2 separate regions of the Homo sapiens genome follow, and region 1 is linked to region 2. Evidence: fine-mapped expression QTL. A gene starts in region 2. The other region holds a variant in brackets. All regions are shown on one strand. Distances are from middle to middle.

Region 1 (5,364 bases), 57 kb before region 2:
GGATTACAGGCGTGAGCCACCACACCGGGCCGTCACCTCATTCTCTTTACTTTCTATACCATCCTCTGAATGTTTGAAGGTGAGGCACATTCTCAGGCCAAAAATCTTTGCCAAAACCCAAGTTTAAAAAAACTAAGAAAAATTTGGTAAACTGGAATTCCTGACCTTTCCTAAACATCGTCAGCAATGAGTCTCAGCCCTTATCTTTCTGCCTGAAGAGCTCAGGGCTCTTCAGGGTCAGGAGTGAGGAAACCGGAAGAGGATGAAGAATGCGGGGTGCTAATGAGATCACTTCTGTCCTGTAGTTGGAAACCCGGCAAGAGTCAGAAGATCTGGGGCAAGAAATGAACCGAAATCTTCACTGAGTGCAGCAGCCACAAGCTTGATGACAGAGCCTGTGTATTTCACTCCAAGGCTGCACGTGTCTGTAAGAACGGGCCTCGCCCATCTTATGCAATTTGCATAGGAATCTGAGGAATATCAGCAACTCTATACAATAACTAAACAAATTTTTTTCAGAGTAAAAATTTGTTATGGAGCTTAAATAAAGACTGACAAAACATTGCATTCCTTTTTCCTTGAGCTTCTTTCAGACTAGCGGGCATCAGAATGTATAATAATGGAGCTCTCTTTGGAAAATGGTGACAAGGCTAAGGTTTCTGATTATAGCTACAAATGCTTTAAATAGCGATCATAATTAATTATTAAGAGACGTAGTCTTCCTTTACACATAGAAGACTAAAACCTTAAGGAAAAAATAGGAGATGTCGGTACATGATCTCTTCTAAGGCACTAGAGCTTTACGTGGGATTAATGTCGGTCAGCGTTTTAGGAATGGAGATGTCACTTTTGAGGAAGTGTCTCCAGGAGGTGTACTTGCCCTCACAAAGTCATGATGAAGGAAATGCTGTGCTTTTCTTTGAACTGGTGCTACCCAATGCTGGGGGAAGAGGAGGAAGATCAGACACTTGCTCCGTGTATCTCCTCTCTGTGGTTTGCAGAAGACATGTGCCAGACACAGGAGAAACTGTCTACTCATTAGCAGAGACACTAAAGGGTCTAGACGGTGCCCAACGGGGGTGGCATGTGGTATATAAAGGGGTGAAGAAAGGAATGCAGCTTGCTAGATTCATTTCCCTTTTCGATTTTCGGCAGGCTGACTCTCATTTCCCCAAAGGACATGCAGAGTTGGCATGGAGGCTCCCAGCCTGGCCGGCCCCTGGCAGGAGCTGTGGACAAAACTCTGAAATGTGGGGCTAAATGTTCAGAAACAGCAAATGCTGATAACTCCTCCAGACCTGCTGGCATTCTGCCTCCTGGCCACTCACTCCAACAGCGTGGGAGGACCGGGTAGGGGACAGACTGAGGGAAGCCTGTGCAGGCATTCATGTGTGCAGAAGTACTGGTTTGCACACGCATCTGCGTGTGGCTGTGTAGGCTGTGCTGTGTTAGCAAGAAGAAAGAAGATCACGGAGAGCATTCAGACGCCCTTCAGCTGGACATTCAGCTTTTTCTTCTTCTTCTTTTTCTTCTTCTTCTTTTTCTTCTTCTTCTTCTTCTTCTTTTTTTTTTTTTTTTTTTTTTTTTTGCCTGCTTGGCTGCAAAAGTCCAGAGGAAGTGAATCCACACTTGCTGATGACCTCATTTCCACCGCTTCCCAGCAACCCCGCCAGCCTCTCAGGGGGAGGCTTATTCAGCCAGCCACTGGGGACTGCAGGGAATGGAGACTGGGGAGAGCAGGCCTGCAGCTGCACCCCAATTCCACTCCGCCAACCCCTACTCCCACCTCTCCCATCACGGGTTGCAGCTGGCCTCGTCATTCTTAAGAAAAGGGACTCAGGTGATAGTCAGACCGAGTGATGAGGGATCTAAGCAGACAGGATCCAGCCGACAGGCCGTGGTTGTAAGTTCTGTGCAGAGAGACTGGACTGTGACAGGAACAAGTTTCCTGTGAGCATGCCATGGAAATTAGTCACCCAACAGAATCAGCAAAACATCTATTATTGATGATATTTGCCAAACTGGAGACAAATTGAGTGCTTTGTCCTGAACCAGGGATGATGATATGTGACTTTTATTAAATCAATAGATCAATTTAAAGCCAATAAGTGAACTTCCAGAGATTGATCAAAGCCATGGATAACCCAGGGAGCTGAAAGGTCAACTCCCCACGAAACAGCAGCTTGTGAACAGCGGAGACAGCCTGTGACTTTGCAGAAAGTTAAACACCGCATTCTTTTCCTTTCTCCTCTTATTCCTTCAGTTTCAGAGAAAAGTAGAAACACGCTGTATTGTGCAGCTATGTATGTGGCACGTGCATTGTTTAAAAATGTCATAGGCACTGCTGGACCCTGGGGAGAGAAACTCTGTGACGTTCAAGTGCTTTACACCAACAAGGCCCCTCCAGGCACATTCCCACGTCCTTCAATATTCATATTTGTAATTTGTCGCCCTTATACAGATTAGAAAGTTGAGGTTCCTGGAGGGGCTAAGTGACCATGCTTGAAATGGGAGGGAGAAACGTGAAGCACAGATGTGGGTATGATTCACAAACTTGCTGCCAAGGAAGGCCACAGTGTTGCACACAGGCAGGAGTTCCCCGCGGGCCTGCACTGGATCGGAAGCTGCAGACTTAGAATCGCCTCCGGGTTGGCCCCGCCCCCTCCTGCTTGGCCCCGCCCCCTCCTGCTCCCCGCCCGGTGCCACCCTCCTCCCCAGGCCTCTAGGGTAGAGCCAGCTGGGAACTGTTTCTCTACATACACACAGCACTTGTGTGCACACACACAGAAACACATGCTCACACACACACAGACACACACACGCGCACACGCAAACACATAAACACACACTCCTACATATCACACACTTGCATGCATCATCACACACTCCCATAATCACACACACACACACTCACACACACAAAACCACATAAAAACACACATACACACTCACACCCACAAAACCACATAAAAACACACATACACACTCTCACGCACAAAATCACATTCATACACCATAGATATAC[A/C]CACTAACACACACACAAATACATAACTACATACACACAATCACACATTCACAGACATCATCACACACATACAGACTAACATATACATAAACACGCATAAACACACACATAAAAACATAACACACGCACATAAACATACACACAGAGACACTCATGCACAGACACATAAACACACACTCGCAGACATACACACACAAAAACACACACAGAGACACCCTCATACACTCACACACATAAACACACACAGACACTCATGCACTCTCACAGTAAACACTCCCACACACAGACACTCACGAACACACTCTGTCACACACAGAGAACACAGGGCCATCCCAGCAGCACTCAGTGAAGACTGCGGGGCTGCATCCCGCTCCTCACGCTCACCCCATCCCGCCCTCCTGCGCAGCAGGCTCAGGTCACAATGCAGAGATTGAAAAACGCCATTTTCATGTGAACATTCAGAGAGGAACAGAGAATGTTAGTACAGGACACACAGTGGCAATACTGAAATGAGAAAAAGTACTAGATTCTGCTGGGCATGGTGGCTCATGCCTGCAATCCCAGCCCTTTGGAAGTCTGAGGTGGGTGGATAACTTCAGGTCAGGAGTTCAAGACAAGCCTGGCCAACATGGAAAAACCCCGCCTCCACTGAAAATACAAAAATTAGCTGGGTGAGGTGGCGCATGCCTGTAATCCCAGCTACTAGGGAGGCTGAGGCAGGAGAATCGCTTGAATCCGGGGGGTGGAGGTTGCAGTGAGCCGAGATTGCGCCACTGCACTCCAGCCTGGGCAACAGGAGTGAGACTCCGTCTCAAAAATAAATAAATAAATAAATAAATAAATAAATAAATAAATAAATAAATGAAAAAGTACTAGATTCTGAGAATGGCCTTTCTGTATATTAAAGGAAAAGACATTGCTTGAGGGAGCTTGGTAAGAGTGGCGACCAATCGTGAAGAAGAAAAGGAAATACCATGACAGCTTCTTTTTTTGAGACACAGTCTTGCTCTGTCGCCCGGGCTGGAATGCAGTGGCGCCATCTCTGCTCACCGCAACTTCTGCCTCCCAGGTTCAAGCGAGTCTCCTGCCCCACCCTCCTGAGTAGCTGGGATTACAGGTGCGTGCCACCATGCCCGACTAATTTTTGTATTTTTAGTAAAGACGAGGTTTCACCATGTTGACCTGGCTGGTCTCGAACTCCTGACCTCAGGCGATCCGCCCACCTCGGCCTCCCAAAGTGCTGGGATTACAGGCATGAACCACTGCGCCCGGCCAGACAGCTTCTTTTAAAGCTTGTATCTGGAGAAGGGTATATCTTTGAAGTGTGGGTTGGGTTTACCAAGTACAAACTGTGCTCTGAAAACTTAAAGGCTTTTTTGATAGTGTTATGGAACTCACAGATCAAGGGCACAATGTCGATATTCTATTTCATGCTTGTTCGGCAGGGCCTCTCCTATGGGGCCTTGTGGGGCTCTCTTTGCACAGTTAGCTCACGTTGGCTTGGGTGCATCTCAGGCTGGTGGATCAGGCCCTCAGGTGAGAGGAGGCCACGTGGGTGCTGATCACGCAGACAGTGTGAGTCCTGGTGTCCTGAAGAGATGGCTCCAGGGGCACTGCAGGGTCTGCGTTTGAAACTGTCTACTGTAGAGAAAGATCAAATCCTGATCAGGCAGCACCAACTTTCAGTCAGTCCACCGTGAAGGTCGCACATTTAACAAACTGAAAAATTAACATTTTTAACTGGGCACTCATTGTGTCAAGTAACACTTCATCAAGCTTCGTGTTTAGAAGAAAAGTTGTTCAATTAACACTTTACCGAACTCCTTGTGTATAAATAAGAAGTTGTTAAAGGACTCAGAGCCGGAACCCACAAAGCCTACATTCAAATAAGGTACCGAAAACAAGAATTACAGAAACAGAAGAAACATATTCTTTATGGCTGTTCAGAAATGTCAAGGAGTCGCTAAAATAGCTGGGGTGATGTGGAGGCCTCAAGACAATTTGAATCAAAAGCCTCTTCAAGGAGTGTGAAGAAGAGTGGGAGGGATGTGAGTTTGTGTCCAGGAGAAAGGAGGGAATGCCAAACAGAACATCTCGCATGAAGCAAGCTGAGAGGCAAGAGTGGCAAGTGCCCCGTGACAGGACGAGTTTGGGGAGAAGACAGAAGAGCCAGCTTGGACTTCATCTGCACCTTAGGTGGGAAGGGACTCCAGTGGAGAGCTGTGGAGGTCTGGGCCAAGAGCTGCAGGTTTTATTTGAATGGAAATGACAGACATTGAGACTTCCAAGGAAAATGGTCCAAGGGCCAGGGAAGTTCTGCGGACACAGGATGAGGGAGG
Region 2 (5,292 bases):
CCATTGTTACGTGGAAACAAATGGTATGAAAAGAACCTGGGGTAAGCAGATGGAAGAAGGGAGGAAGTGTTTGCGTGCACAAAGGCGCCATTTTACATAGGGTGTTAAGGGACACCTTCTAAAGATAAATAGGGGCAGGGGTCGCCGATGTATGGGGAAAAGCTTTCCGAGGAGAGCAAACACCAAGGGCAGAGTCCTGGGGAGGGTAAGCATGCTTGGAATATTTAAGGATCCAGACGGATTCCACGGGGGTGCAGCCAAGTGGGCTGTGGGAGGAGAAGGACATAAGGTCAGTGATGCACCAGGGGCACACCTGTCGTCTTGCAGGACTTGGTAAGCTCTTCGGATTTTTTCTTTCTTTCCTTTTTTTTTTTTTTTTTTTTGAGATAAGAAACCATTGAGGGACTGTCAGGAAATGAGGTGATCTACATAGATTTGAAAAGGTAACCTGCCAGGCACGTGGCTCACGCCTGTAATCCCAGCACTTTGGGAGGTTGAGGGGGGCGGATCACCTGAGGTCGGGAGTTCGAGACCAGCCTGACCAACATGGAGAAACCCCCGTCTCTACTAAAAATACAAAATTAGCTAGGCGTGGTGGCGCATGCCTGTAATCCCAGCTGCTCGGGAGGCTGGGGCAGGAGAATCACTTGAACCGGGGAGGCAGAGGTTGCAGTGAGCCGAGATCGCGCCATTGCACTCCAGCCTGGGTGACAAGAGCGAAATTCTGTTTCAAAAAAAAGAAAATTAACACACAGTAGCTATTATCAAATGCTGTAACCGTAAGTGATTTAATACATAGGAAATGAAAATTGCCTATCATTGTTCTTTAATCTGGTTTAAGTGGTTGAGCCTTATGACACTGCCATTTCTATGGGTCAAAAATGGTGGAATATTGTCATAAAATTCAACCTGATTTAAAGGATAGGGCAAGGAAAAAAAGCAAAAAAAAAAAAAAAAGCTTTAGAATAAAATATAATTGGATTATAATCCCAGACACAGGACTCACTAGCTATATTCTTGGGCAAGTTACTTAACTTCATCTTTCTTGGGTTTCCCCTTATTTGTAAAATGGGGATAACAGTCTAACCTAAGCCCAAGTTGTACTGATGATTAAACGAGATATGCATGTAGGGCATTCAGCATAGTGCCTAGGAGCTTAATAAATAAGCAGGCCATTAAGAAGGGGATTGCATCTTTTACACTAGCAGCATCAAAACCTTGATTTTGATTTTTCTAGGTACTGAAACAGCCTTCATTACTTAGAGACCATAGCTTTTTTGCAAGTTACTATTCCCTGCATTTAGAAAGTTCATCTTTAAACAGGCAATTCAGTAAGTAAATATTCTATGGCTCTAAAACAGATACGGCTGTTGGAGACTTTAAAACATCTGACAGTTACATTTTTAATGTTGTCTACCAAGGCTATTACATTTCCTCTGTCAAAGTAACTTAATTTTAAAAACGAACTCTGTGCTTGTTAAACGAAAAGGCCAGAAGGCTACTGGCTACTCAGCGTTCATTTGAAATTCTTATAGTGCCTTCAGTACAATTCAAACTTAGAGGTGATTCTCACAATTCATGTGAAGCAACATTTTACAAAAAAAATCACCTACGTTCACTGTTAAGTCAGAAGACAGAATGATTAACAAAATCTCAGCCGCGAATTACTCTCACGATGGCCAACTGGATATTAAATAACTCTGCATTATTTTAATGGAATGTTATAAAGGATTTGCAACAAAATGCAGACGTAGATTTAGGGACTGCCGACTTCTATAGATCAAGGACTTCATTGGTGCAGCTGAGGAAATTCTTCCAAACAAGTCTAAATGTTGGAAATCCACCAAACTGCAGAGAAAGACCTCTTGCCTCCGTATTCTTTCTTCATCTGTAAAAATGTTGACTTCTGCTTTTCAGACTACGCGCACAGCCTCTTTATTTCCTACTGCGGCTTCATTCCCTCACGGAACACTGACGCCATCGCGAAGGAAGCATTTCGAGCACGACTGACGCTCCCCTTATTATTTGCTAAGCCGCTGCGCTCGGGTCTGGCTACGATTTGCTTTCAGAATAACGGGAAGGTGCAACAAGATCGCTTCCCTAGAGGCGCGTCGCCCGCGTGGCCCGGACCCCCCACGCCCGCCCGCCGCCCCGTGGGTGCGCACGCGTGTCCGCGCAGGCTTCCCGCCTGGCGAGTGCAAGGCTCCTCTCCGCCGTGCTGCTTTCCAGCCTCTCAGCAAATCACGAACACCGAAAGAAGCCACGGCGGCGACGGGAGGGGCGTCGCGCGTGCTTCCCTCGGCGACAAAGCGGGAGCCGGGCGCGCCGGCCGAGGGCGCCCGGCGCAGAGTCCCGCAGAGGCGGACGCCGCGGCACGCGCCTCGAAAAGCCTCAAACTCTTATCCTCGGCTCTCCCGCCCCACCTCCGCCCCGCAGCCAAGACCCGCGCCGTGGCGGGCCCGACGGCCAAGGAAAGCCCACCAGCCCTCCGCACCGTGGGCGACGGGCCAAGACCCGGCCCTAAACGGCCAGACCCAGCCCCTAGTCGGCTGCCGCCCCCGCCCCACGCAGGCGCGCTCCGGGGCCCTCCCCTCCCCCACCGCGCGCTCGCGGGGCCCGACGGGGGCGGAGCGACCCTCGGAAGGGGCGTGGCGACCGGGCTCGACGCGCGCACGCGCTCTGGAGCCCCACGGCTACGTGTCGGGCCACGTGATGCCCACCCCGAAAGTCCCCCGTGAAGCAACAGGACGTTAAAAAAAAATTTCTCTTCTGCGGGGTGGATAAGAGGTTCTGAAAAAACTATAGTAACGGGAGGCGAGGCGGAGGCAGCGCTGGCGCGTCCCGCTGGAATTCCTCTCGCCTGCCGCGCCAGCCCCGACCGCGCCCGCAGCCCCACCCGCCCCGTGCCGTGGAAAGCCCCGCGCCCCCCCCGCGGCCGTCGGCCCCGCAGCCCACACCCACCCGCCCCGGGCGCCCCGCACGGCGGCGACCCAGTCCTTGCGCCCAGGCCCGCCGAGCGCCGCAGTCCGTCACACTCCCGTTGCCCCCGTCGCCCGCCCCGCCGGGGAGGCAGGGAGGAGGGGGCGCGGCGCCGGCGGCTGCCCCGGTCGCGGGGCGGCGGGCAGCAGGCAGCGGGAGCGCGCCGGCCGGGACCCGCTAACGGCCGCCCTGCGCGGCCCCGCCCGCCGCCCGCCCCCGGCCCTCCCCGCGCCGCTGCCCCTCCCCCCGCCGCCGCCGCTGCTGCCGCCGCCGCTGGCAGCGCCGCCTGAACTGAGGCGAACTCCGCCGCCAAGTGAGTGAGGAGGAGGAGGAGGAGAAGGAGGAGGAGGAAGAGGAGGAGCGCAGTCGGAGCGCGGCGGCAGCGGCAGAGGCGCCGCGGCGGGGACCAGCCCAGAGAGACCCCCCGAGCCCGCGGCACAGGCGGCGGCGGCGCTGAGCGGGCTCGACCAGCCGAGCGAGCGGCGGCCCCGGCTCCTCCTCGTCCGGCGCCAGCAGCCCGCGCCCCGCGCCCGCACTCGGCCAGCCGAGACCCGCCTCCCGCCCGCCCGCCGGCCTCGTGAGGGACGCGCCGAGCCGGGCGGCCGAGAGCGGCGGCGGCTGGGAGCGCGTCGGGCCCGGGCGGAAAGTGCCTGCGGGGGGCGGGCGAGCGCGCGGTGCCGGCCGCCCCGGGGCTCGGCGCGGGAGCCAGAGCGGGAGCCGGCGCGGAGCGGGACGCCGGGTCCCGAGCGGCCCGCGGCCGGGGCTCGCCCCCGCCCCTCCCTCCTCTCCGGCGGCGGCGGCGGCGGCGGCGGGCGGAGTGAGCTGCGGAGCCTGGAATATGGTCGGGGAAATGGAAACGAAGGAGAAGCCGAAGCCCACCCCAGATTACCTGATGCAGCTGATGAACGACAAGAAGCTCATGAGCAGCCTGCCCAACTTCTGCGGGATCTTCAACCACCTCGAGCGGCTGCTGGACGAAGGTGAGCGTCTCCAGGGCCCCGGCCCCGGCCCGACCCCCGCCGGGGCGGCCCCTTTCCCCGCTTGGGATGGTGGGGAGGGCGGGAAGGTCACGGCCGGGCGGGACCGAGCGCCGGGGGGACTGGGAGGCCAGGAGGGCGCACAAAGGAGGTGCCGGGCCGGGCTTGCGGCGGGCGGGCGGGCCGGGGTGGACCCGCCGGTGCCGGACGCCCCCTGCCCGGCCGGGACCCCGCGCCGCTGGCGTCCAAGTTGGCGCGTTGCGGAGGGCTGCGGGGTGAGCCCTGCGGCCCCTCTAGCTTCGGCGGTCACATTTCCGAGAGGTCGGCGGGGGCTGCGCGGACTCGGTGGTCCTCGCCGAGCCCTCCCGAGAGCAGGCCCACGCCGCGCCGCCGGCCTGGAGGACGCGTGTGCCCGGCGCGGGCCCCGCTCCTCCGCTCGGCCTCCCGAGCCTGCTCTGCGCGGACCCCCACCGCCCCGCGTTCGGGAGCTCTCCCCTCCCGTGAGGACTAAAGCGGGGTTTCGTGGTTGGGGAGTTGGTGCAGCTGTTCAATACTAAGTGGAAGTCAGTGTGGGGCTCGTTAGTTTAAAGAAATTCCGTAGGAGACCGAAATTATGCTGGCGTAGCCGACAAGGAGGACTAAGTGACGGCGAAAAGCACTTTTTTCCCTTTTGTTTGGGGAAGCGAGAACTGTTAGGGAGTTGAACTTCACTTTTCGGGGGTGGGGGGGGGGGGGGTGGAGTGCGAAATAACGCGATGACAGATCGGAGCGCAGCCTGAGTTAGAAGAACTTGGGCGGAGGGTTTGCTCCCGGGGACGCAGCCGCCTGAGTTTGTAGGACAGGGTTTCGAGACGTTTGGAAAGGGCGAAATAAAATTGAGCCAAAGTTTCCAAAAAGCTGTATGGAGCGCTGTGGGGAGTGAAGAATGACAAGAAGATTAATGTTGACCAACTTTGGAATTTCCTTAAGAAGTTCTCATAGCAGTACCTGAAGTATTAATTTCTAGTAGCTGTGGGTTTCTGTGGACGCCTAGAGAAAAAAAAGACCACAAAAAAAGTCTGTTTCGAAAATCGACTGGCCAGGAGTTTGTTTGTTTTTTTTTCCTGCTTAGAGGCACCACCGGAGGACTGTGTAAAGGAAACTGAAAACTACAGGTTGAAGAGATGAACAATGGAGTTTAGATTTTTCGCAAGAATTTCGAGATTTTAAAAATAGAGTCGGGGAACAGGAGTTTGAAGCTTGGGGAGTTGGAATGTCACTAGAGAACAAAAGGCCGGAAATGTTTCCATGATAAAAAATGGTTAAAGAAAAATCCCAGGAGTTCTGTTGTCTTGAA

Evidence for each region. PIP is the estimated chance that this variant, and not a neighbour inherited with it, causes the effect.
Region 1: its variant is the best candidate, but not a certain one, in a credible set for the expression of QKI in whole blood (TOPMed, PIP 0.50).

What each region holds. Positions count from the first base shown.
Region 1 is chr6:163,353,953-163,359,316 of GRCh38, forward strand. No RefSeq gene overlaps it. Among named protein-coding and RNA genes, the nearest start is that of DKFZp451B082, 9.6 kb to the left of the region's middle. The variant A/C (reference allele first, on the strand shown) is at 3,026.
Region 2 is chr6:163,411,377-163,416,668 of GRCh38, forward strand. QKI (QKI, KH domain containing RNA binding) reads left to right here and starts at 3,342. Exons shown (of 8, transcript NM_006775.3): 1 at 3,342-3,959. The coding sequence starts at 3,818. It overlaps LOC124901234 (basic proline-rich protein-like), which reads left to right and starts at 205. Exons shown (of 4, transcript XM_047419614.1): 1 at 205-333; 2 at 1,238-2,709; 3 at 2,873-3,292; 4 at 3,589-3,800. The coding sequence starts at 1,830. The coding sequence ends at 3,800. CAHM (colon adenocarcinoma hypermethylated) reads right to left here and starts at 2,574. Exons shown (of 1, transcript NR_037593.1): 1 at 1,689-2,574. RefSeq lists silencers at 1,981-2,760, 2,851-3,670, 3,921-3,970, 4,171-4,360 and enhancers at 2,594-3,246, 3,247-3,900.